Homo sapiens: one gene and its partners. The protein of the gene in region 5 interacts with the protein of the main gene of each other region in a pairwise test. Each region holds a gene or a part of one and is shown on either strand. Other genes may lie near its edges. The genes, in order: CADPS2, TRIM59, RNF138, PJA2, UBE2W, MID1 and RNF10.

Region 1 (3,500 bases), on a different chromosome or scaffold from region 5:
TGGGCCATGCCATGTAGAGTAAAAGGAAAATCATCTCCTATCTGAAGAAGCTTGGCAAATTATAATAAATAGGTATTTCTCACTGCAAAATAATATTTTATAAAGATATGATGCTGGTCTTCTGAGTTGTATGGAAGTAATTAAATTTCAAATTTTTTTATTTAACTCATCCAGATTGAAATAAATTGAGGATGATAGTTGAACTATGTAATTTAAAGAGATGACAGAGTGAATATTATATTTTCTCTTCAGTTGTTATTCTAGTTATACATACAAAAATGGGATAAAGGCCAGGCATGGTGGCTCACGCCTGTAACCCAATGCTTTGGGAGGCTGAGGCGGGCAGATAGTGAGGTCAGGAGATTGAGACCATCGTGGGCAACATGGTGAAACCTGGTTTCTACTAAAAATAGAAAAATTAGCTGGGCGTGGTGGTGCATGCCTGTAGTCCCAGCTACTCAGGAGGCTGAGGCAGGAGAATTGCTTGAACCTGGGAGGCGGAGGTTGCAGTGAGCTGAGATCGTGCCACTGCACTCCAGCCTGGTGACAAAGTAAGACTCGTCTTAAAAAAAAAAAAAAAAAAAAGCAGGGAAGGAGGTATAAAATCATGTTTCACATTTTTCATTTTTTAGACCCAATGATTTGTCTAATAATGTAGTCCTTCTATATTTGCATTTTGTTTGTTTATGTTGAGGGTATAAATTATTTAACTATGCCCTAATATAAAACTTAAATTGATAAAATTCTGACACTTAAAAATTTTTGTGTTACCTTAAGAGTTACACTTCTATAATATACATGTTTGTTTTTAATCTTTTTGCAAATCTTCTCTGAATTTCTGTGTTATATCCATATTGGTTACTTTGCATTGGTAATTTGTGGATCATTTCAAGTCAACAAATTAATAGAGTTAATAGTAAATCACTGAGGCACTTTAACCCTGTGAACAATTTGTGTACTCACTGTAATTGATTTCATTGTTTTATTAAACCAGGTAGTTATTTGATAATAGTGGAAGAAGACTATAAAACCAAAATCTTCTATTTGAAAGATAACTTCAACTGGAACTTTGTATTTTTAGTGAAACAGTAGCTCACTTGTACAAATAAATGTTGATTAACATAATTTAGTGGGAAAACTCAGATTCAGACATTCAGTAGATATTTGTTGAGCTTTATTCAAGTCCAAAACCTCTGTAGGTATTAGGGAATCCAAGTTGAGCGAAAAAACATATTTTTTCCTCTGTAGTGGCTAAAGTCTATATAAGATAAGACTTGATAAGTCCAAGAAAAGTCATTTATTTGCAGCTTGCCCAGCTTTTTATTCTGAGGATGGGAGTGATGACTTTCAAGCTCTTTATATGTCTCAGTTAAAGCTATAATTCCTTTCAGTTCTGAGATTTGAAAGAAAAGCTTATGGATTATTTTTTATTGATTTTAAAACACAAAGATATTATAAGACCTCTAAATGAGTTATTACATATGGATTAGAATATACTAGATGTTACAAGGTTATAAAATATATTTCCATGTTCCTATGAGTTTATGTTATTAACTTAAAATATGTTTAAGTTGTCTGCCTACTAGAGAATCAGCTGGACTGTGGGCACCCTGGTTTTAGTCTTCTGTGATTTGAAACCTACTTGCAATTCAGATCTCCAACTGTAGCAGTGGCTTTGTCCTTGCTCAGAGTTGGCCTGAACAACAATAAAAAATAGCAGTTTTGTTTATTTGTCCTTTCAGTTCTATCAGTATTTGTCTCATATATTTTGATACTCTATTAGGTACATATATTTGTAGTAGGATTGTTATGTTTTATTGTAGAATTGACTCCTTTATCGTGATGTAGTATTCCTTTTTATCCCTGATTATTTTCCTTTTTCTGAAATCTACATTGTCTTAAGCTAATACAGCCACTCCAGCTTTCTTTTTATTAAGGTTAACATGGTATCTCTTTCTCCATCTGTTTACTTTTAACATAAGTCTTTATTTTTAAAGTGGATGTTTTGTAGACAGTGTGCAATTGGGTCTTGAAGTTTTTCTTTTTTTTCCGAGACGAAGTCTTCCTCTGTTGTCCAGGCTGGAGGGCAGTGGTGTGATCTCAACTTACTGCAACCTCCACCTCCCGGGTTCAGGTGATTCTTCTGCCTCAGCCTCCCAAGTAGCTGGGATTACAGGCACCACACCACCATGCCTGGCTAATTTTTGTATTTTTAGTAGAGATGGGGTTTCACCATGTTGGCAGGGATGGTCTCGATCTCCTGACCTCATGATCCGCCCGCCTCGGCCTCCCAAAGTGCTGGGATTACAGGTGTGAGCCACAGCGCTTGGCCCAAGTTTTCTTTTTTTTTTTTTAAATCCAGACTGATCATCTTGGTCTTTTAATGGGTATGTTTAGGCCATTCATATTTAAGGTGATTACTAATGTAGTTGGATTAAATTTTAAAATCTTTGTAGCTTTTACCACTTGATGCATTTGTTCTTTGCCCTCCCCTAGTTTTTGTGCCTTCTGTAATTTTGATTGAACACTTTATATGAATTCCATTTTGTGTCTTTTGGTGTACTGCTTATACATTTTTTTAAAAAACGAAACAAAATTTTGGTGATTCTCCTAGAGTTTAAAATACATATTTTTAAATAATCTAAGCCTACCATCAGATAACACTATACTATAAGGCTTCATGTGTACTGCAGCTACTCCATAATAGAGTATATCCAATTCCTTCCTCGCATCCCTTGTGGCATTGCTGTCATTCACTTCATTTATAATATGCTATAACCCCCAATATATTCTTTCTATTATTGCTTTGAACAGTTATCTTTTAGCTCAATTAAAAATAAGAAAAATAAAAGATTATATGTATTTTACCTTCATTTATTCCTCCTCTGATGCTCTTTCATTTCTTTATGTAGATTCAAATTTCTTACTGATATTATTTTCCTTATCTCTGAAGAACTTTTATCATGTCTTGTAGGCCAAGACTAGTGGTGATGCAGTCTCTCAGTTTTTGTTTGAGAAAGTCCTTGTTTCTTCTTTGCATTTAAAGTATAATTTCACTGGATATAGAATTATCTGTTAGATTTTTTTTTCTCTTTCAGCGCTCTGAAAATTTCACCACACTGTCTTTTTGTTTGCATGATTTCTGATGAGTTTAATGTAGTTCTTATCCTTTACTCTTTAGAGGTAAGGTGTTATTTTCCCCCTTATGGCTTCCTTCAAGAGTTTTTCCTTCTTTCATTTTTCTGCAATTCGAATATGCTGTGTCTAGGGGTGTGTGTGCTTGTGTGTATTTCTTTTGCTTGGTGTTTTTCTGAGCTTCCTGTATCTGTGGGTCAGTGTCTATTATTAATTTTGGAAAGTTCACTGCTGTTATTACTTCAAATATTCCTTCTGTCCTATCCCCTCTTTATTCTTTTTCTGGTATTCTAGATATGTTTATGTCACCCATGTTTCTGTTACCCATGTTATCCCACAGTCCTGGGATGTCCGTTCTGTTTGTT
Region 2 (3,500 bases), on a different chromosome or scaffold from region 5:
AGATGTTCATCCTAGAAAATATACATAGGTTAATTTTTTGTTCTTTTTCTTCCTTTCAGAAGCCTAGACTGGTTGTGGAAAATTTCTGCTGCATAAAATTTCATATTGGTTTCTGAAAGAACTAGCCTGTAAGCATGGTAGCCACCTGTATCTTTTTTTTTTCTAAAAAAGGCAGGGTCTTGCTCTGTTGCCTAGGCTGGAGTGCAGTGGCACAGTCGTGGCTCACTGCAGCCTCAACTTCTTGGGCTCAAGTGATCCTCCTGCCTCAGCTCCCCGCGTAGCTGGGATTATAGGCGTGTATCACTGTGCCTGACTAATGTTTAATTTTTTGTAGAGAATGGGGGTCTCTTGGTGTTGCCCAGGTTGGTCTTGAACTCCTGGCTTCAAGTGATCTTCCCACCTTGGCCTCCCAAAGTGCTGGAATTACAGGTGTGAACCACTGCACCTGGCCCACCTATATAGTTTACTTCTCAGGCAGCAACCAGAGTCAGAAAGTTCCTGACCTTACAAAGTTATTTTTCAGTTCTAGTTTCTCTTGAATTTGTTGCCTAAAATTAGTTTTTAATCAATAAATCAGTGAGAAAAGGGTAGTCTGAGAATAGATTTTGACTTCTGTGAACTTCAAGTTATCCACAAATTTTTGTCTAAAAAGTATTATTAAAAATTTTACATATGATAGCAGTAACTTTGAGACCAACCACGATTTTTGCTTCCTATTTTTTTTTTTTCCTTTTTTTGAGACAGAGTCTTGCTCTGTTGCCCTGGCTGGAGTGCAGTTGCGCCATTTCATGCCTCAGCTTCCCGAGTAGCTGGGATTATAGGGATTACAGGTGTGCGCCACCATGCCTGGCTAATTTTTGTATTTTTAGTAGATACAGGGTTTCACCATGTTGGCCAGGCTGGTCTCAAACTCCTTGCCTCAAGTGATCCACCTGCTTTGGCCTGCTTCCATTTTATATAAGCTTAGGATATGCTTTACAATGTCATGAATATTCTCATTCTAAAGAAAGTTGAGCTTTTGGGCCCCTAAGTGCATTCTCAGAGTTGTTCCCTAGTTTTCTGCAAGCATAGAATAGGGGTTTGGATAGAAAAGTTAGATTCTGTTTTAGGACTAGTTTTGCTACTTAAACAATTGAATAGCTCCAGTAATATTAAATCTAGATTAAATGTACGTCGACTGCTCAAATTTTATTTCCTACAAAGTGTTATTCTGTTTATTCCTTCAATGTGAATTCTGACATCACTGAAATACTCTGAAAAACACATTTGTTTTTCTTGGGTGGTTTCTGTATGACTTCATAGCTTTCTGTAGGTGTAGGGTAAAGTTGTAAAGTCTTGCCAGCATGCACTCACTTGAATTTATCTGCAGTGAATGTCATCTTCTTTACTGTTGCTCAATTACTTTAATTTGCTGGAATGCTCTACAGTTCAAGCTTAGTCTCTGTGTGACACACTTTGGCTCATTCGGGATCTGAATATTGTCAGTTTGAATGGAGTGCTTTTTTTCTTTTTTCTTTTTTTTTTTTTTTTTTTGAGATGGAGTCTCACTCTGTTGCCCAGGCTGGTGTGCAGTGGTGTGAACTTGGCTCACTGCAAGCTCTGCCTCCCGGGTTGACGCCATTCTCCTGCCTTAGCCTCCCAAGTGGCTGGGACTACAGGCGCCCACCACCACACCTGGCTAATTTTTTTGTATTTTTAGTAGAGACGGGGTTTCACCCTGTTAGGCAGGATGGTCTCAATCACCTGACCTCATGATTCACCCACCTCGGCCTCCCAAAGTGCGGAGATTACAGGCGTGAGCCCCCGCACCTGGCCTGAATGGAGTATTTTCTGATAGATTTTCGTTTTACACCTTTTCCTAAGCAGAGATTTTGCTATTAAAAAAACAAAAAACAAAAAACCCCAAAACAAAAATCTGTATTAACACAGGTCTCTGAAAAGGCATTTGTTCATTGAAGCAGTAACAAGTGAATGCCTGCAGTGTTAAAATTTGTGCCTAAATTGCAGGAATATAACCATTGTTTAGACACAATTCCTGCCCTTATAGGAGGCCTACATTCTAATGTATACAGAAAAGTTACAAAATTCTTAAATAAAATCTTGTTAAAGTGCTATGAAGTAAAAATGCAGTGTTTAATGAGAATAACAGGGGACCTAATCTGGGGAAAAGGCAGGCTCAAGTTGAGCCTTGAAGGAAGAGTTAAGAGTTTGACAGATCGTAAAGATAAGGAGCCAAGTTTGCATTTTATTAAAAATGCAGTTAGTTACTTTTAGTTGCTGTTTTCACAGATTTTTAATCTTAAAAGTTAGTTTTATAGCATGTGATTTGGTAACCTTTATATTTTACGTGAATGGCACTTGGGTGTTTATTTTTTTTGAGACGGAGTTTCGCTCTTGTTGTCCAGATGAGTGCGGTGGTGTAATCTTGGCTCACTGCAACCGCCACCTACTGAGTTCAAGCAATTCTCCTGTCTCAGCCTCCCAAGTAGCTGGGATTACACGCATTTGACACCACACTGGGCTAATTTTGTATTTTTAGTAGAGATGGAGTTTCTCCATGTTGGTCAGGCTGGTCTCAAACTCCCAACCTCAGGTGATCCGCCCGCCTCGGCCTCCCAAAGTGCTGGGATTATATGCGTGAACCACTGCGCCTGGCCATGGCACTTGGGTTTTTAAGTTTTGCCTAAGGTACTTTCAACAGTGGTATAACTTGATTTTTCTCTATCAAGGGGTAAGCTAGTCTTTAGAATTGTGGCTGATGCATTGAGGGTAGGTATAAAGGAAAGCAGTAGGAGGTGGTAGGGTGCAAAATGGTCAGGCTTCTGTTACTGGAAATATCAGTAGTAGCTTGCCAAGAGGTCAAGTTACTTGTGTCAGAGATGGTCTCTGAACTATCGCTACGTTTCTTTTTCTGTCTCAGAGAAATACGGATCGAGAGACTTTCATGAAGGAAAGATGACTAATGGTCTTCTTTTTGTTCTTTACCATTTAGTGCTCTAGTTTTTCACTTAAAAATTAATTCACAGTTACTATAGTCAACTCTTATCTTTCAAACTGATTTTTATTATAAGAATTAATTCAAAATTTTTCTGTCTTCTAAATCTGCAAGTTAAAATTATTGCTTTAGAGAATTATACTATGCTGATCCTGGGGTTTAAGCGTTCTTGTATTCTAATTTGAGAAGCTAAAAAATTTATGGTAGTAACAGTTACTGTGGAGAAATTTGATAGCTTGCTTTAGAAACCATTATTGAGCCAACTGGGACATGTTTCCTCCTTTTGTGTTAAAGAATATACTTTTGCTAAGCCTAACTTGTTGTAATAGAAATAGTCTTGTCTACTCATTATATGTGCTTGGTTTTGATTTTATCATCTTAAATGTTAAAATGTTGCACAAAATAGTTGTAATCACTAAGTAGACTTTAACAGAACACTTTGAATTTTAGTCTTTATTATGTAGTGTATTAGTCTGTTTTCATGCTGCTGATAAAGACATACCTG
Region 3 (3,500 bases), on a different chromosome or scaffold from region 5:
GTCTCACTATGTTGTCCAGGCTGGCCTCAAGTAATCCTCCCGCCTTGGCCTCCCAAAGTGCTGGGATTATAGGCATAAGCCACTGCCCATGGTTTTATGTATATAGGTTTGATGGGTATATACTTCAGAGTGGAATTTATGCGCTCTAATGGATATTGCCACCCAGTTTTCCAAATGGTTGTAAAAGTTTATACTCCCATAGCCTCCAATGTGAGTTTAGGTTGGTTCATATCCTCCCTAACACTTGGTATTTCCCACCGTTTTCATTTTTGTCTTTTTCTTTCTTTTTTTTTTTTTTTAAACAAGGTCTCACTCTGTTGCTCAGGCTGAAGTGCAGTGGCACGATCTCAGCTCACTGCAACCTCTGCCTCACAGGCTCAAGTGATCCTCTCACCTCAGCCTCCTGAGTAGCTGGGACTACAGGCATGTGCCACCATGCCAGGCTAGTAGAGATGGGGTTTCACCATGTTGCCCAGGCTGGTCTTGTGAGCTTAAGCCATTTGCCCCGCTCAGCCTCTCAAAGTGCAGGATTACAGGTGTGAGCCACTGTGCCTGGCCATTGTTTTATTATTACTATTTTTTTAGAGACAGGGTCATGCTGTGTTACCCAGGCGGGCCTTGAACTCATTGGCTCAAGAGACCCTCCCACCTCAGCCTCCCAAGTGGCTAAGACTACAGGTACATGCTGCTGTGCCCAGATTTGGTTACTTTTACTATTTTTAAAACTAGTTTTGCTGGGCACCATGGCTCACGCCTGTAATCCCAACACTTTGGGAGGCTGAGATGGCTGGATCACTTGAACTCAGGAGTTCAAGACTAGCCTGAGCAACTGGCAAAATCCCATCTCTACAAAAAGTACAAAAATTAGCCGTCGCAGTGGTGCATGCCTGTAGTCCCACCTACTGGGTAGGCTGAGGCAGGAAAATTACTTGAGCCCTGGAGGCAGAGGTTGCAGTGAGCCAAGATCGCACCAGTGTACTCCAGCCTGGGCGACAGAGCGAGGCTCTGTCTCAAAAAAATAAAATAAATAAAACTAGTTTTTAGTTTGGCAAGTGAAAACTGGCATCTTGTTTACTTTGCGTTATTTTGGTTTCTGGCTATGGTAAATATTTTTAATTGTTATTGTTTTTTGAGAGACAGTATTGCTCTGTCACCCAGGCTGGAATGCAGTGGCACCTTCATAGCTCACTACAGCTTCAACCTCCTGGGCTCAAGTGATCCTTCGCCTCAGCCTCCTGAGTAGCTGGGACTGGACGTGCATGCTACTATACCCAGCTAATTTTTTTTATTTTTAATTTTTGTAGAGACAGGGTCTTGCTATGTTGCCCAGGCTGGTCTTCAACTCCTTGCCTCAAGCTGTCCTCCTGCCTTGTCCTCCCAAAGCACTGGGATTATAGGCATGAGCCACTACGCCCTGCCTAATGTTTTAGTTTATGGTGTTAATTGGTAATGACTTCTAGTGCTGCTTTAATGATATTAACTACTATTTATTGAGCACTTTCCTGACCATGACAAATAATGTGTTAAGCATTTTATACTTGTTATCTATTTTAATCCTCTGAACAGCCGAATCAGTTGTAGATACTTTTATTATTTCGTGAGTGAGGAAACTGATATTAGAGGGAAAAACTGACTTGTTTAAAAGTGCTGCATAGTTAGGAAACTCAGGTTATGTGATCTGTTACTGCACCATTTCCTCTCAACTTCTGTTAGTATAGAGGAGGAATATTCATATATATTTATAGGAGATTGGATTAAATGTATATGTATTCTAGATCCCAGATATATATGTCTGTAATTTAACTGGTTCTCTTGAAAGCAAAATGATCAAATAAGGTATTTGGTGGGGCTAGAGAAGATAAAAAGATTTTAGTTTGATTCTAATTAGAAAGTTGGTTATAAATGTTTAATCTTTTTTTTTTTTTGAGACGGAGTCTTGCTCTGTCGCCCAGGCTGGAGTGCAGTGGTGCAATCTCGGCTCACTGCAACCTCTGTCTCCTGGGTTCATGCCATTCTCCTGCCTCAGCCTCCCGGGTAGCTGAAACTACAGGCGCCTGTCACCACGCCCGGCTAATTTTTTATATTTTTAGTAGAGACGAGATTTCACCGTGGTAGCCAGAATGGTCTTGATCTCCTGACCACGTGATCCGCCTGCTTCAGCGTCCCAAAGTGCTGGGATTACAGGCGTGAGCCACCGTGCCCGGCAAAGCCGGAAGTATTCTTAAGTATTTCTCAAATTATGTTCCATTGCATACTGTTTGGGAAATTTCCCTACTTCCGGACCAAATAACCAAATATCTGTTAACACGCAGATAACTTTGGGTAACACCTAACTTTGGGTAAAACCTATTAACTTTATCCTAGAACTTCCCAAACCAATTTGTGTGCTCTTTTGTAGTAGACCTGTTTATGTCTTGTGGAACAACATGTCGATATACATCAGTTTGAGACAAAAGCTTATGTTACTCATCCTTTTATTTTGTAAGGGGAGGAAATGGAGATCCAGTGTGCGTTAATTTGTTGGCCTAAGATTACACAGCTACTAAATGGCAGAGCCAGGATCCGGTTTTTCCTTTGTACCATGCTTCCTCTAGTAATATTATTAATATGTAGCATTAATATTTATTCATCATATATTATGTTAAGAAGTTGTAAAGCAGACTTGAGTGTAATTGTTCAAATATTCCCATCTAGTCCAGTTATCAGTCTTACTCTCTGATAAATACATATACAGTTACTAAACTTCTGAGATTTATGTACATATGAGTAGCCTAACTTATTTAATATGAATACATATTTATAATCACTTGTTTGTATTTAATTATAGAGATGAAGAGAGTAATTTTTTTTGTAATTAATGTGTCACAATGTTTGGTTTAGTTTCTGTAGAAAATGTTTCCTGACTGCAATGAGGGAAAGCGGAGCACATTGTCCCCTATGTCGTGGAAATGTGACTAGAAGAGAGAGAGCATGTCCTGAACGGGCCTTAGACCTTGAAAATATAATGAGGAAGTTTTCTGGTAGCTGCAGATGCTGTGCAAAACAGGTAGAGTAAATGTGACATCTCTCTTCTTTGGAAGCCAAGTTTCTACTCTGAAATTCTTATTTGAATTTTCTTGGTTGGTGTTTTTTTTTTTTTTGAAAAGATGAAAGGTATTTAGACTGGGAATTGGATAGAAAAGGCCAAAAAAAGCTGTGGTCATAGATCTTACTAGATTATAAACTTACTGAGAAATGAGACTGAAAAAAAAATCACTGAATTTCATAATACTTAGCGTGGCATTTTTCTAAAAGTAATTTCTCATTGATTACTTGCTAAAGTAACTAAATTAGCAAGCTGGCATTTAGCTCATTTAAACCCCATTCTGGTACAAATTCACCCCTTAAGTTTTTCTCATGGTAGCATCATTATTGCAGCTTTACACATAGAAATGTTACTAGTTTGGGCACATGGATTTATGTAGTTTAAGGAACTCTCTAGCTCCTCACTTTACTTATGT
Region 4 (3,500 bases), on a different chromosome or scaffold from region 5:
ATTTATTAGGATTAGTATTATTTGTTTTACAATTTTTTTTAGAGTTTGCATGTGAACTCTTCTGGTCCTAGAGTTTTCTTTGCTGGAAGGCTTCAAAGGATAAGTCCAATTATCCTTTAATAAATACAGGATTATTAGGGTTATCTATTTCTTCTTGAAAGCTTTCGGTCTTTGTATGAATCACTTTCACTCACTAAGTGAGCGTTAGTAGTTTTTGTCTTTCAAGGCATTTGTCTTATTTCATTTATTCGTTGTCATAAAGTTGTTTCTTAATTATTTTAATGCCTATAACGTCTGTAGTGGTGTCTTTCCTTTCATTCTTGTTATTAGCAGTGTGACCTCTCATTTTTATTTGGTTCTAGGTTTATTTTATTAATCTTTTCAGAGTCAACTTTTTATTTGATTGCTTTTTTTTTAATTGTTAGTTTTATTGATTTCTGCTTCTTACTATTTCTTTCTATATGCTTTGGGTTTAAATTCCTCTATGTTAATTTATTAAGGTGTAAGCTTAGGTCATTGACTTGAGACCTTTTTTCTTTTCCTTCCAAGCACTGCCTGAGGTGCTTACACAAATTTGATGCACTGATTTTTTTTAAAGTTCTTATGTCACTTCCACTTTGACCCATGAAGGTTGCTGTTTAATTTCCAAATATTTGGTGATTTTGCATGTCTCTTTCTTTGTATAATTTATTTTAAATTCTTTGATATTTGTTTTATGACCAGAATATGGTTACTCTCAGTAAATGTCCCATGTACACTTCAAAATAATGTGTATTCTGCTGTTTAGCAGTGGAGTATTCTATATCAAGTTGATTGATGATGCTTGTTAGGCCTTCTCTTTCCTTACTGAGTTTTTGTTTGTTTCATTGATCATTGAGAGAAGAGTTGAAGTCTCCAAGTATAATGGTAAGTTTGTTTATTTCTCCTTTTCAGTTTTTGCATCATGTGTATTGAACCTCCTGTTAGGTGCATGTAAATTTAGGATTGTTAAAACTTTTTGGTGAATGAACCCCTTAATCATTATATAATGCCCTCTTTATCTCTGATAGTATTCCTCATTCCAAAGTCTACTTTATCTAATATTAATACAGCCTCTCCAGCCTCCTTTTAGTGTTTGTATATTATTTTCCATCCATTTAATCTGTCTTTTATTTAAAATGGGTTTGTTCTAGACAGCCTTTTTTAATTCATCTTGAAAAATCTGTTTTTACATTGAAGTGTTTAGACTATTTACATTTAATGTAATTTTGATGTAGTTGGATTTAAATATACAATCTTAATTGTTTTCTACTTATGTGCTCTCTGATGCCTATTTTTGAGTGCATTTTATCTTCACCATTGGCTCACTACTTACACTCAACTTTTCCTCTCTTTTAAAAAGTTAATTGGCTTCTCTGTGATTTATATTTTACATCTTTAATAATAGACCATATGGAAGCAATACTATACCACATTTTATATAGTGTCAGAGCTTTACAACAGTATATTTACAATGTATATTTACAATTTCTCCTTATCTTTTGTGCTATTACTGTTTTACCTTTTACAAATGCCATAAATGCATAATACCTTGTAATATTTGTTTTATTCCTGTGCTGTCTAGTATGGTAGTCATTAGCCAGTGTAGCTATTTAAATTTGAATTTAAAGTAGTTAGTACAAGTTAAATTAAAATTGATTTTCTGTGTTATAGTGGCCTCTTTTCCAGTGCTTATTCTTTCTGCATGAAGAACTTCCTTTCACATTTCTTGGACTTCAATTCTACTGGTAACAAAGTTCCAAAGATTGTTTCACAAATACTTTGTTTCACTTTTTCTTTTGAAAGATTTTGCTGGATATAAATTTATTGTTCACAGTGTTTTTCTAATATTAAGGATGCTATTTATTATCTTTTGACTTGCACAGTTTCAAATAAGAATTTGGCTGTGATTCTTATTTAGTTCCTTTTTTCTGCTGTCAGTATCAAATATGTTTTATCAGTGGTTTTTAAATTTTATTTTATTTGTTGTTTTTTTTTGAGACAAGGTCTCGCTCTGTTGCCCAAGTGGAGTGCAGTGGTACAAGCTTGTCTCACTATAGCCTTGAGCTTCTAGACTCAAGCAATTCTCCCACCTTAGCCTCCAAAAATCCTGCATTTGCAGGCCTGAGCCACTGTGCCCAGGCTGTCATTGGTGGTGGTAGCGGTTGTTTTTGAGACAGAGTCTCACTCTGTCGCCCAGGTTGGAGTGCAATGGCGCCATCTCAGCTCACTGCAACCTCTACCTCCCGGGTTCAAGTGATTCTCATGCCTCAGTCTCCCAAGTATCTGCGATCACAGGCTCCCGCCACTACGTCTGGCTAATTTTTGTATTTAACAGGGTTTCACCATGTTGGCCATGCTAGTCTCAAACTCCTGGCCTCAAGTGGTCTGCCCTCCTTGGCCTCCCAAAGTGCTGGGATTACAGGCATGTGTCATTTGGTTTTTTTGTTGTTGTTGTTTTGTTTTTTGTTTTTGAGACAGAGTCTTGCTTTGTCTCCCAGGCTGGAGTGCAGTGGCGCCATCTCGGCTCACTGCAAGCTCTGCCTCCCAGGTTCATGCCAGTCTCCTGCCTCAGCCTCCTGAGTAACTGGGGCTACAGGCACCCGCAACCATGCCTGGCTAATTTTTTTTGTATTTTTTTAGTAGAGACGGGGTTTCACCATGTTAGCCAGGATGGTCTCAATCTCCTGACCTCGTGATCCACCTGCCTCTGCCTCCCAAAGTGCTGGAATTACAGGTGTGAGCCACCATGCCCGGCCATATCATTCGTTTTTTATAGCAGGTTAAAGATGTTAACATCTTGGGATATGTGTACATTTTTGTGTGTTTTGTATTTATACTGCTTTTGTAGGGGGGAATCACTGAGCTTCTTGGGATTTATGATCTTTTAAATAATGTATGAAAAATTCACAGCATCTTTCTCTTCTAATGTTTCCACTGCCCGCGACACCCCCCCGCCCTTCCCCCCCCTCCCCCTGCTGGTTTGCTCTCTTTTTGTGGGGTTCCAGTTAAACTCATGGCAGCTCATTTAATGCAGTCCACAATTCTTGGAGGCTCTGTTTTGGTTTTTGTTGCTGTTGTTTTTTAACATGTTTCTTTTCAGTTAAATCACTTTTTATCTAGGCTTGGATCATTTCTTTTGACTTATCTTTTTCTTTTTTTTTTTTTGAGACAGTCTCAGTCCATCACCCAGACTGGAGTGCAGTGGTGTGATCTTGGCTCACTGCAACCTCTGCCTCCCGACTTCAAGCGATTCTCCGTACCTCAGCCTCCTGAGTAGCTGGAATTATGGGCGTGCACCACCACGTCTCACTAATTTTTTGTATTTTTAGTAGAGACGGGTATCACTATGTTGGTCAGGCTGATCTTGAACTCCTGACCTAAAGTGATCCACCCATCTTGGCCTCCCAAATTGCTGGGATTACAGGTGTGAGCCACTGAGCCTGGCCTGATTTATCTTGAGCTCACTAAAAGCTTCCTCC
Region 5 (3,500 bases):
GAAACCAAGTCAAAAATGTGTTCTCTAAACTCTTTCCTTAATATTTAATTCTAAATCAAATATCAAACTTAAACATTATGTTGAATTTCTTCTTTAATATTTCTGTAAGTTACAGCATTTGTAATAAATTCTCCCTATTGTCCTATTTCAAATTCATTTTATCCTCCTTCCCTGATTTTATTTGTCTGTTCTTCTAACATTGGTGTTATCCAGGTTCTTTATTCAGCACTGTGTTACTCTTCTCACTCTTCTTTCACCTTCAGTCACCTTAAGCAGCTAACTCCCAGATCTACAGCTCTGGGAACACTTCTTTTTTTAAGGCTTAATTTCACACCCTTGTTGAAATACTTGAGTACCTCCAGACATCTCAAATTTAACACAACTAAACTTGATCTTTCCAATAACAAAGAACATTTTGTTTTTCTTTATCCTGGGTTACTGTCCACCTGTCTATTTTTGTGCTCAGTTTTTCTCTTTTCCACACTCCTCCCTCCTACATTTGAAAGGTAGCCCATTCTTTTCTTAATGTCAGTGCTGTAGTCTGGTTTTTTGTTTGTTTGTTTTTGTTTTGTTTTTTTTGAGACAGCGTCTCGCTTTGTCACCCAGGTTGGAGTGCAGTGGTGCAATCTTGGCTCACTGCAACTGCTGCCACCTGGGCTCAAGTGATCCTACCATATCAGCCTCCGAAGCAGCTGGGACTACAGGTGCATGCCACCACACCCAGCTAATTTTTTTTTTTTTTTTTTTTTTTTTTTTTTTTGCAGTTGCAAGATTTAATAGAGTGAAAACAGAGCTCCCATACAAAGGGAGGGGACCCAAAGGGGGTTGCTGTTGCCAGCTCGAATGTCTGGGTTTATTTCCTGATCGTTGTCCCTCCCTCTGTGCTCTCAGGCAACAGATGATTGGCTATTTCTTTACCTCCTGTTTTTGCCTAATTAGCATTTTAGTGAGCTCTCTTTACTATCTGATTGGTCAGGTGTGAGCTAAGTTGCAAGCCCTGTGTTTAAAGGTGGAAGCGGTCACCTTCCCAGCTAGGCTTAGGGATTCTTTGTCGGCCTAGGAAATCCAGCTAGTCCTGTCTCTCAGTGCCCCCTCTCAACAGGAAAACCCAAGTGCTGTTGGGGAGGTTGGCCGACAACCACTCTAACTGCTTCCCGCTGAATTGGGACGTAGTAGGGGTTGTGCAGTTGAGATTTCCTCAGGAGGGGTGCCTTCAATGTCATTAACATTGGAGCATGGGCTAGCAGGCCGGTCCAGGGGTCTGTGGTAGATTTTAGTCATGGACTGTCTGGGGCTCCATTTGAAGAACGATTTGTAGTTTTACAGCTTCAATTCTGGAAGAGACAAACTTAACAAGGAGGTTAAAGATAGAGGGATTGAAATGTATGGCCTGCAGTGCAGGGGATTATTTCTTTGGCACACTTTACAGGCCTTGACTATCTGCTTGATAGTTTTGAAAAGGTCTGGTCCAGTAAATAATGATTTGGCCATCTGATGGCACACCCAGCTAATTTTTATATTTTTTGTAGAGATGGGGTCTTGCCATGTTGCCCAGACTAGTCTCGAGCTCCTGGGCTCAAGCGATCAGCCCACCTCCTTGGCCTCCCAAAGTGCTGGGATTACATGTGTGAGCCACCATGCCTGGCCTAGTCCAGGTTTTTATCTTTTATTTGAACCATTACAGTAGCCTTTAGTTCTTTGAATTCCTACATCCTTTCACGGTGCCAATAGATTTGTTTGAAGGCACAGTTATCTCACTGGTTACATACCACACACATGGACATGCACACACATCCCCCCCCCCCCACACACACACTCCCACACCCCACTCCACCCCCCCACCACACACACACTCTGTCTCACTCCACCATCCCCAGAATTCCTCACCCCCTGACAGTAAAACCTCTTAATGTTTATTTCCTATGGAATCAAGTTTTTAGCCTGGCATTCAAGTCCCTGTATAGTCACATCCAAACTTAACTTTTTCTGCACCTGCATGCATTCTGTATGGTAATATTTCTATATAGTACTTCATAATTTAACTTCCATTCTGATTTTGTTTTCTAACATCTTTTAATGAAGTGGTTAGGGGAGGTAGATTCATCCTCATTTTATATGTGAAGAAATTGAAACTTGTAGAAGTGAAGTGCCTTGTTCACGTTTTAATACCTAGTTTATAGGACAGTCAAGACCCAAACCCAAGTCTTTCCTTTCCTCCTTTGCCATACTGCCAATTAGATGCGAGTACCGGTGTGGAAAAAATGCCTATTTATCTATGTAGTAATTTTCTCTCTGAAAGTGAAAGATTATATGTGGAATGAATGGTACCTTTGAAAGCTCTAGGTCAGTTATTCTCACTCTTTTTGAAATATAAGGATTCCTTTTTTAATTTACTTTTTGGTGGGGTGGGGGTGCGGAGACAGAGTCTCCCTTTGTCATCTACCTATGCTGTGGTGTAATCATAGCTCACTGCAGCCTCCAACTCCTGGGCTCAAGTGATCCTTCCACCTCAGCCTCCAGAGTAGCAGGGACTACAGCCATCTGCCGCCATGCCTGGCTTGGTTTTTTTATTTTGTTTTTTTGTTTGTTTGTTTGTTTGTTTGTTTGTTTTTTATTTTTTTGAGACAGAGTCTCGCTCTGTTGCCCAGGCTGGAGTGCAGTGGTGTGATCTCTGCTCACTGCAACCTCTGCCTCCTGGGCTTAAACCATTCTCCCACCTCAGCCTCTCTGAGTAGCTGCAACTACAGGTATGCACCACCATGCCTGGCTTATTTTTTTTTGTATTTTTGGTAGAAACAAGGTTTCACCATGTTGGTCCAGCTGGTCTTGAACTCCTGTCCTAAAGTGATCTGCTCGCCTCGGCCTGTCAAAGTACTGGGATCATAGGCACGCCCAGTGAGGATTCCTTTTTAATATCAGTTAATTCTGTAGTCCCTCACATGGCATAGAGGTTGTATATTCTAATATCCATTGATTGGGAAAATGGCAGAACTACTCTGAGGCCAGTAATACGTTAAAATTTTTTAAAATGTATTTATACATAATCTATATAGTTTTAACATAATTATAATGGGTCAAACATCAATGCTTGATGTGCTTATAGACTTCAAGATTTTTCCAATAACTGAAACTTTGCAGAGATCCACTGCCCTGGGAAAGTGGCTAGAACCAGTCCTCTAGGGCAGTAAAATTCCCCCAAAATTTTATTTGATGAAACTCTGTAGCATTAGCACTTGTTACCTAAATTAGTCTTTCATCTTTCTGGCTGGGCATGGTACTCATGCCTGTAATCCAAGCACTTTGAGAGGCCAAGGCAGCCCAGGAGTTTTGGGACCAGCCTGGGCAACGTAGGGCAACCCCATCTCTAATAAAAAAAAGAAAGAAAAGTCTTTCATCTTTCTATGCAATGAACAGTACTGAGTTTATCACTAGTTACAAGAGTAGAATTTGGAAAATATTTCTAGAATAGATGAATCTCATTGTGAAATTACTGCTTTTGT
Region 6 (3,500 bases), on a different chromosome or scaffold from region 5:
GTTGCTGGCAACAGTGACAAGCCCGTGGTGGGAGTTTTTTGGCCAAAAGGGTCCCTCAGCAGTTTTGTAAGCCTCCTTAAATTGCTTTCTCAACTGTAATCATTATCATTGTCATAACATAACTTATCACATGAATATGATGACCACTGAAATCCTTGTTCTAATTAACTAAATCATTGCTCTAAATATTAGTCATTGGTACTCAAACTTACTGCAGCCACTGAAAAAGCCCCCAGATATTTTTCTCCACTTCGTTCTGCCTACCCACGTCCCACTGCTGGATTAAACAATAGAATTATTCAGAAACATAATGAACACATGCCAAAAATATTGCCTCTATCACAATCATCTTTGTGAAAGTCAATGTTTTTTCTCAGGAATATATTTTGGAAAATGACATCCCACACTTAAACACGATCATCTCTGCTGAAATCCCCACATTTGATTTCATGTACATTTCATGCCCATTTCTATAGTTACTGCCTTCCTATTGTTCTGAAACCTGGTTTGGTATTGCAGAGTAAAAGTCCTTAAATCTCGTATACATTAATACGTAAGTTTATAAATTCAAATTTATAAAAGACTCTAGTTTATTGATGAATATTTCTACATTTTAATTTTCTGTGCGAGGTTAAACCTGACTCTGACACAATAAGATTATTCTGATTAAATACAAATTATGGAAATTACAGTTTCAATTACATTCTAGTTTTGAATGAAGCCTTTTAAAAAACAAAATTGAAAAAAAAAATTGCACATTTTCAGTTACTGAACTTTGAGAAAATGTTAACTGGTATATGATGGCTCAGGATGCTTTTTCCTCCTTTTTTCCCCAGTGAATAGAAAGAGAATTATTTGGAATGTACACACACTTACCCTTTCATGACCTGTGTTTGGAATTATTCTGAGATGCATTCAAAGCTGACACCCCCCTATGGTTGACCTCCCTGTGCCTAATCAAATCTTACATTCTTGTTTCCAGATAGCTGATCAGCTTCCTTGGGTTTTGCTGATGACACAAGAGAGCTTTGCCTGAAGATGGAAACACTGGAGTCAGAACTGACCTGCCCTATTTGTCTGGAGCTCTTTGAGGACCCTCTTCTACTGCCCTGCGCACACAGCCTCTGCTTCAACTGCGCCCACCGCATCCTAGTATCACACTGTGCCACCAACGAGTCTGTGGAGTCCATCACCGCCTTCCAGTGCCCCACCTGCCGGCATGTCATCACCCTCAGCCAGCGAGGTCTAGACGGGCTCAAGCGCAACGTCACCCTACAGAACATCATCGACAGGTTCCAGAAAGCATCAGTGAGCGGGCCCAACTCTCCCAGCGAGACCCGTCGGGAGCGGGCCTTTGACGCCAACACCATGACCTCCGCCGAGAAGGTCCTCTGCCAGTTTTGTGACCAGGATCCTGCCCAGGACGCTGTGAAGACCTGTGTCACTTGTGAAGTATCCTACTGTGACGAGTGCCTGAAAGCCACTCACCCGAATAAGAAGCCCTTTACAGGCCATCGTCTGATTGAGCCAATTCCGGACTCTCACATCCGGGGGCTGATGTGCTTGGAGCATGAGGATGAGAAGGTGAATATGTACTGTGTGACCGATGACCAGTTAATCTGTGCCTTGTGTAAACTGGTTGGGCGGCACCGCGATCATCAGGTGGCAGCTTTGAGTGAGCGCTATGACAAATTGAAGGTTAGTCCGATCCGCCTTAAGCCAACCCCTTTCTGCCAGAAAATGTCATGGAAATAAAAAGTGTATTCACTGCTAGCTACATGGCAGGTGAAGGTTTTCTCCTCACCTTTGTTATCTGATTAGTTTTAGCATGTTTTTGGCAACCTATAAATGTTACACAATAAGGGTATCTTGTAAAAGTTGACTGCTGCTTGTAATTTTAGCGTTGTCAAGGTGAGGGCAAATTCTAAAAATCTGGATCATTTTCAATCCATGCAGTTTTTCTGGATCATTTTCAATCCTTACAGTTCTTCCAAAGAGAGTGCTGCCTCTCTCTGAGAGAGAGGGAGAGAGAGAGAGAGAGAGAGAGAGAGAGGGAGAGAGAGGGAGAGAGAGGGAGAGAGAGAGAGAATGACAGATAAAATCTGGCTTTGGGCATTTGGGGAACACTTACTTTTCTCACTCATCTGGGAAAACTAATTCACTCTCATTGTACCTGTATCTAGTTACTGCACAAACAAAAGAATAGAGGGAAGAATGTCTGTAGCAAATGTGGGATTTTAGAGGACACGTGACCTTTTATTCCTTGTATAAACGATATCCAGCTTATTGGTGAAATTCAGTGCTCTGACAATCTCAGGTTTCACGAAAGAATTCCTTTTCGTGTAGGCTCTTTATTCAGTAAGGTTACAGTCAAGACTATTTGAACTTCATTTTTTACATGAAATTATTAACCTAACTCCAGCTTGGGGGATAATGATTAATATGACTATATGTGAAATAAAAGGATCACTTTCTAGGCAGGGCGTGGTGGCTCATGCCTGTAATCCCAGCACTTTGGGAGGCCGAGGAGAGTGAATCACTTGAGGTCAGCAGTTCAAAACCATCCTGGCCAACATGGTGGAACCCCATCTCTACTAAAAATAAAAAAATTAGCCGGGTGTGGTGGTGGGTGCCTGTAATCCCAGCTACTCGGGAGGCTGAGGCAGGAGAATCACTTGACCCTGGGGGGTGGATGTTGCAGTGACCCAAGATCGCGCCACTGCGCTCCAGCCTGGGTGAAAGAGCGAGACTCTCTCTCAAAAAAAAAAAAAAAAAAAATCACTCTCTAAGTATGGATAGAAAGCACTAGGGAAGAAATAATAAGCCAAGTCTCCACATGTTTGTTCAATTTCAGGCAACAGTGGGTCTAATTATTGAAAACTCAGCTGAGAGAGTTTGAGTGAGATACTATGTTCATCAGCTAATTTTAGATCACAAGACACCAATTAAAAGAAAGGAAGTATAAATTAAAAGCTCTAAGTAAATATATATTGAAGTCCTTCCTCTCAGGAAAAACACATACCATGTTGTTGAGCAAACAAAATGAATCACATGATCAAAAGAGTGTTATCACTTAGAAAACAGTGTCACCTTTAACAAATGGTTTCTATCACCTCTCCTTAGCGCTAATGGGTGGTTGTGTTTACTGGGACCACATAGTTTATTCTGTGACAGTGGGATTAACGGACCACATCTGGGATTTGGCTTTGCTATTTCTTGACATGTTGAGGGAAGCCGACATGCTGAAGTCAATTCCTGCTTCTCAATGTCACTTGGGCAACAAAAGCATCACCTGGGCAGCATGTTTCACTTCAAGTATCCAAAGAATTACTGGTGCAAATCCATCTTTAAACCATGTAGAGGAAGTCAAGCACAAGGACTCAGGTGACACAGACAACAGAAGACAGCCGCTGACAGGCTTTCCAGAACAGTGCATGGCAGCACAGGAGAAAAGTACCACCAAAGTTAATCATAGCAAAGGCAATGCATGTATGAGCTGT
Region 7 (3,500 bases), on a different chromosome or scaffold from region 5:
CAGCTCTAATTCTATGTAGCCTTTCTTATGCCTGTAATGGCATTTGAACAAATACGGCTGCAACGTATTATAGAAAGAAAGCAAAAGTTAAATACACAGGACTCTACCCAAGGAGCCCTTGGGAGTCAGGGAGAAGGGAATTCAAATACCAGCTGCATCCCTTACTAGCAAATTACCCAACCCAGGATTCAGTTTCCTCATCCATGAAAGGGGATAGTTCTATCTACCACACTAGAAGCTTAAGTGAGATAAATGTGTATAGCACAAGTCCTATCAAATGCTGATCACTCAATAAATATGGGCTTCTATTGCTCTAAGCTAGATCAGTGGTTCCAGGAGTGTGGTCTGGGGATGAGCAGCCATCAGAATCACCCTAGAACTTGTTATATGCAAATTACTGAGCCTACTGAGCTTAACCTATGCAATCAATATCTCAAAGTGGGACCTAACAACCAGTGGTTGTGATGCTTCAAGAATCTCTGTTGTGGAAGATAAAAGACCCAGGGAATTCTGTTCTTGTGTAATTCTTGCCGTTTCAGGTACTCCTAAGGCATACTGGGCAGGCCATAATACTTTCTCCACAATGTCTTTCAAAACACCTCTAGAATAGAATCTTAAGTATTTTCCCAGAAAACAAAGAACTCTAACTTGCTTTAAGAACATAGCTAATCTAAAAAACTCCACTGTCACAATTAGTTATAAAATCATTTTGACTTGCTCCTTTCAGCTCTAGAAAGAGCTTTAAAAGCCCTAGGTTAAACCTTCTCTACTGTCATCAAACAAAGCCCAAAACAAATTGGCTTTTTTAGCCATTCTCTGCTTATTGTCTTAAATGTGGAATGGAACTAACTTAATCCCCAGCGTCCATCATCTCACCCCCGACAGAGTGAAAAGGTTTAGCATTTCTGGTTTTCACCACAGAACGCCGAGAAAGTGAAAAGGTTTAGCATCTCCAATGCATCCTCTCACCTTGAGCTCCTGGATAGCTGCCTCAATAAAGCAGGACTCGGGAGTGTGCTTCTCCTCTGCCAGCTGCTGCTCTAGTGCTACTTTCTCCTCCAGAACTACCCGGTGCAGCACCTGCTCCTTAGAGGCCAGCAGCAACTTGGAGTACTGGCTGTGCTGTTCATCTATAAGAATGCCAGCAAGATCAAAGAAATGCAACATTCAAAGCTCACGATGGTGTAGCTAAATAGGAATTTTCAAATACAGCCTTTTCTCTGGGGTGAAAATGGGGTAATTTAGCATGATTTCCTAGAAAATAATTTAACAATGGTCTTAAAATAAGGTCTGTAGCTCTGCTCTTGATATAAGAAATCTAAGAAACCCAGAGATGTAGTCAAAACTTTAGTCACGCGTTTATTGTTACAGCATTGTATGTAATATCAGAAAAGCTCAAACCAGCCAGGCACCATGGCTCACACCTGTAATCCCAGCACTTTGGGAGGTCAAGGCGGGTGGATCACTTGAGATCAAGAGTTCGAGACCAGCCTGACCAACATGGTGAAACCCCGTCTCTACTAAAGATACAAAAAAGTTAGTCGGGCCTGGTAGGGCATGCCTGTAATCCCAGCTACTTGGGAGGCTGAGGCAGGAGAATCGCTTGAACCCAGGAGGCAGAGGTCGCAGTGAGCCAAGATCATGCCACTGCATTCCAGCTTGGGCAACAAAAGCGAAACTCTGTCTCAAAAAAAAAAAAAACAAAAAAAACCACACACAGAAAAAGAAAAGCTCAAACCAACCAGTAAAACCAACAATAAAGAATAAAGAAATGGTGGACCAGCGCAGTGGCTCACACCTATAATCCCAGTACTTTGAGAGGCCAAGACAGGAAGATTGCTTGAGTTTAGAAGTTTAAGACCAAGCCAGCTGGGTGTGGTGGCTCACGTTCAGCACTTTGGGAGGCTGAGGCAGGTGGATCACCTGAAGTTAGGAGTTCGAAACCAGCCTGGCCAACATAGAGATACCCTGTTTCTATTAAAAATACAAAAAATTAGCTGGGCGTGGTGACGGGCGCCTATAATCCCAGCTACTAGGGAGGCTGGAGTAAGAAAATCGCTTGAACCCAGGAGGCAGAGGTTTCAGTGAGCCAAGATCGCACCATTGCACTCCAGCCTGGGCAACAAGTGCAAAACTCTGCCTCAAAAAATAAAATTAAAAAAAAATAACACCAGGCGGAGTACGGTGGCTCACACCTGTAATCCCAGCACTTTGGGAGGCTGAGGTAGGCGGATCACAAGATCAAGAGATTGAGACCATGCTGGCCAACATGGTGAAACCCCGTCTCTACTAAAAATACAAAAACTAGCCAGGTGTGGTGGTGCGTGCCTGTAATCTCAGCTACTCAGGACGCTGAGGCAGGAGAATCTCTTGAACCTGGGAGGCGGAGATTGCAGTGAGCCGGGATTGCACCACTGCATTCCAGCCTGGCAACAGAGTGAGACTCCATCTCAAAACAAAAACAAAAACAAAAAAAGCACAACACACACACACAAAAAAAACAAAAATTAGCCGGGCGTGGTGGCAGGTGCCTGAAATGCCAGCTACTCAGGAAGCTGAGGAAGGAAAATCGTTTGAACCGAGGAGGTGGAGGTTGCAGTGAGCCGAGATCACACCATTGCACTCCAGCCTGGGAAACACAGCAAGACTCCGTCTCAAAAAAAAAAAAAAAAAAAAAAAGAGTAGTTCAAGACCAGCCTATCAACATAGCAAGACCTCATCTCTGCTAAAAATAAAAATAAAAAATTAACTATACCTGCATGCCCAGTTAATTTTTTAAAATAAAAAAAATAATTTAAAATTAAAAGTTAATTTAATTAATTAAATTAATTTTAATTATTTTAATGAATTTAATTAATTAAAAGTAATTATTGCCACTGCACTCCAGCCCAGGCGACAAAGTGAGATTCCATCTCAAATAAAGGGTTAATGACATGATGGTATGTTCATTAACGAAAATTCTGTGGACACTAAAAGTGGTTTTCTTGGCCGGTCACAGTGGCTCACGCCTGTAATCCCAGCACTTTGGGAGGTAAGGCGGGCAGATCACTTGAGCTCGGGAGTTCGAGACTAGCCTGCCAACATGGTGAAACCCCGTCTCTACTAAAAATACAAAAAAAATCAGCCAGGCATGGTGGCGGGCGCCTGTAGTCCCAGCTACTCGGGAGGCTGAGGCACGAGAATCGCTCAAACCCGGGAGGCAGAGGTTGCAGTGAGCCAAGATCATGCCACTGCACTCCAGCCTGGGTGACAGAGCCAGACTCTGTCTCAAAAAAAAATATATATATACATATTATATTATATATCTATAAATAAAATAAAAATAAAATTTATCAGTCTTTTACAGCATCTATCATTTCAGCCTGGTTCAAAAATCCACCCATATCTGAGGATTTTTTTTTAATTAATACACATTTTTAATGTTTTAAGTTGCTAAACATTTAAACAGTCAAAATCACTAGGAAAAAAATATTACACACACACATTTACCACCCAAATGA

What was found.
Region 1: the proteins of UBE2W (region 5) and CADPS2 interact in a two-hybrid assay, tested with the Homo sapiens proteins (one large-scale study listed by BioGRID and IntAct).
Region 2: the proteins of UBE2W (region 5) and TRIM59 interact in a two-hybrid assay, tested with the Homo sapiens proteins (one large-scale study listed by BioGRID).
Region 3: the proteins of UBE2W (region 5) and RNF138 interact in a two-hybrid assay, tested with the Homo sapiens proteins (one large-scale study listed by BioGRID and IntAct).
Region 4: the proteins of UBE2W (region 5) and PJA2 interact in a two-hybrid assay, tested with the Homo sapiens proteins (one large-scale study listed by BioGRID and IntAct).
Region 6: the proteins of UBE2W (region 5) and MID1 interact in a two-hybrid assay, tested with the Homo sapiens proteins (one large-scale study listed by BioGRID and IntAct).
Region 7: the proteins of UBE2W (region 5) and RNF10 interact in a two-hybrid assay, tested with the Homo sapiens proteins (one large-scale study listed by BioGRID and IntAct).

What each region holds. Positions count from the first base shown.
Region 1 is NC_000007.14:122,659,461-122,662,960, reverse strand, and holds part of CADPS2 (calcium-dependent secretion activator 2), read left to right. Parts: intron 1-3,500. UniProt on the Homo sapiens protein: Calcium-binding protein involved in exocytosis of vesicles filled with neurotransmitters and neuropeptides. Probably acts upstream of fusion in the biogenesis or maintenance of mature secretory vesicles.
Region 2 is NC_000003.12:160,439,787-160,443,286, reverse strand, and holds part of TRIM59 (tripartite motif-containing protein 59), read left to right. Parts: intron 1-3,500. UniProt on the Homo sapiens protein: E3 ubiquitin ligase involved in different processes such as development and immune response. Serves as a negative regulator for innate immune signaling pathways by suppressing RLR-induced activation of IRF3/7 and NF-kappa-B via interaction with adapter ECSIT.
Region 3 is NC_000018.10:32,108,874-32,112,373, forward strand, and holds part of RNF138 (E3 ubiquitin-protein ligase RNF138), read left to right. Parts: intron 1-2,880; coding exon 2,881-3,046; intron 3,047-3,500. UniProt on the Homo sapiens protein: E3 ubiquitin-protein ligase involved in DNA damage response by promoting DNA resection and homologous recombination.
Region 4 is NC_000005.10:109,399,975-109,403,474, reverse strand, and holds part of PJA2 (E3 ubiquitin-protein ligase Praja-2), read left to right. Parts: intron 1-3,500.
Region 5 is NC_000008.11:73,819,863-73,823,362, reverse strand, and holds part of UBE2W (ubiquitin-conjugating enzyme E2 W), read left to right. Parts: intron 1-3,500. UniProt on the Homo sapiens protein: Accepts ubiquitin from the E1 complex and catalyzes its covalent attachment to other proteins.
Region 6 is NC_000023.11:10,565,086-10,568,585, reverse strand, and holds part of MID1 (E3 ubiquitin-protein ligase Midline-1), read left to right. Parts: intron 1-982; 5' UTR 983-1,038; coding exon 1,039-1,698; intron 1,699-3,500. UniProt on the Homo sapiens protein: Has E3 ubiquitin ligase activity towards IGBP1, promoting its monoubiquitination, which results in deprotection of the catalytic subunit of protein phosphatase PP2A, and its subsequent degradation by polyubiquitination.
Region 7 is NC_000012.12:120,558,356-120,561,855, reverse strand, and holds part of RNF10 (E3 ubiquitin-protein ligase RNF10), read right to left. Parts: intron 1,131-3,500; coding exon 970-1,130; intron 1-969. UniProt on the Homo sapiens protein: E3 ubiquitin-protein ligase that catalyzes monoubiquitination of 40S ribosomal proteins RPS2/us5 and RPS3/us3 in response to ribosome stalling.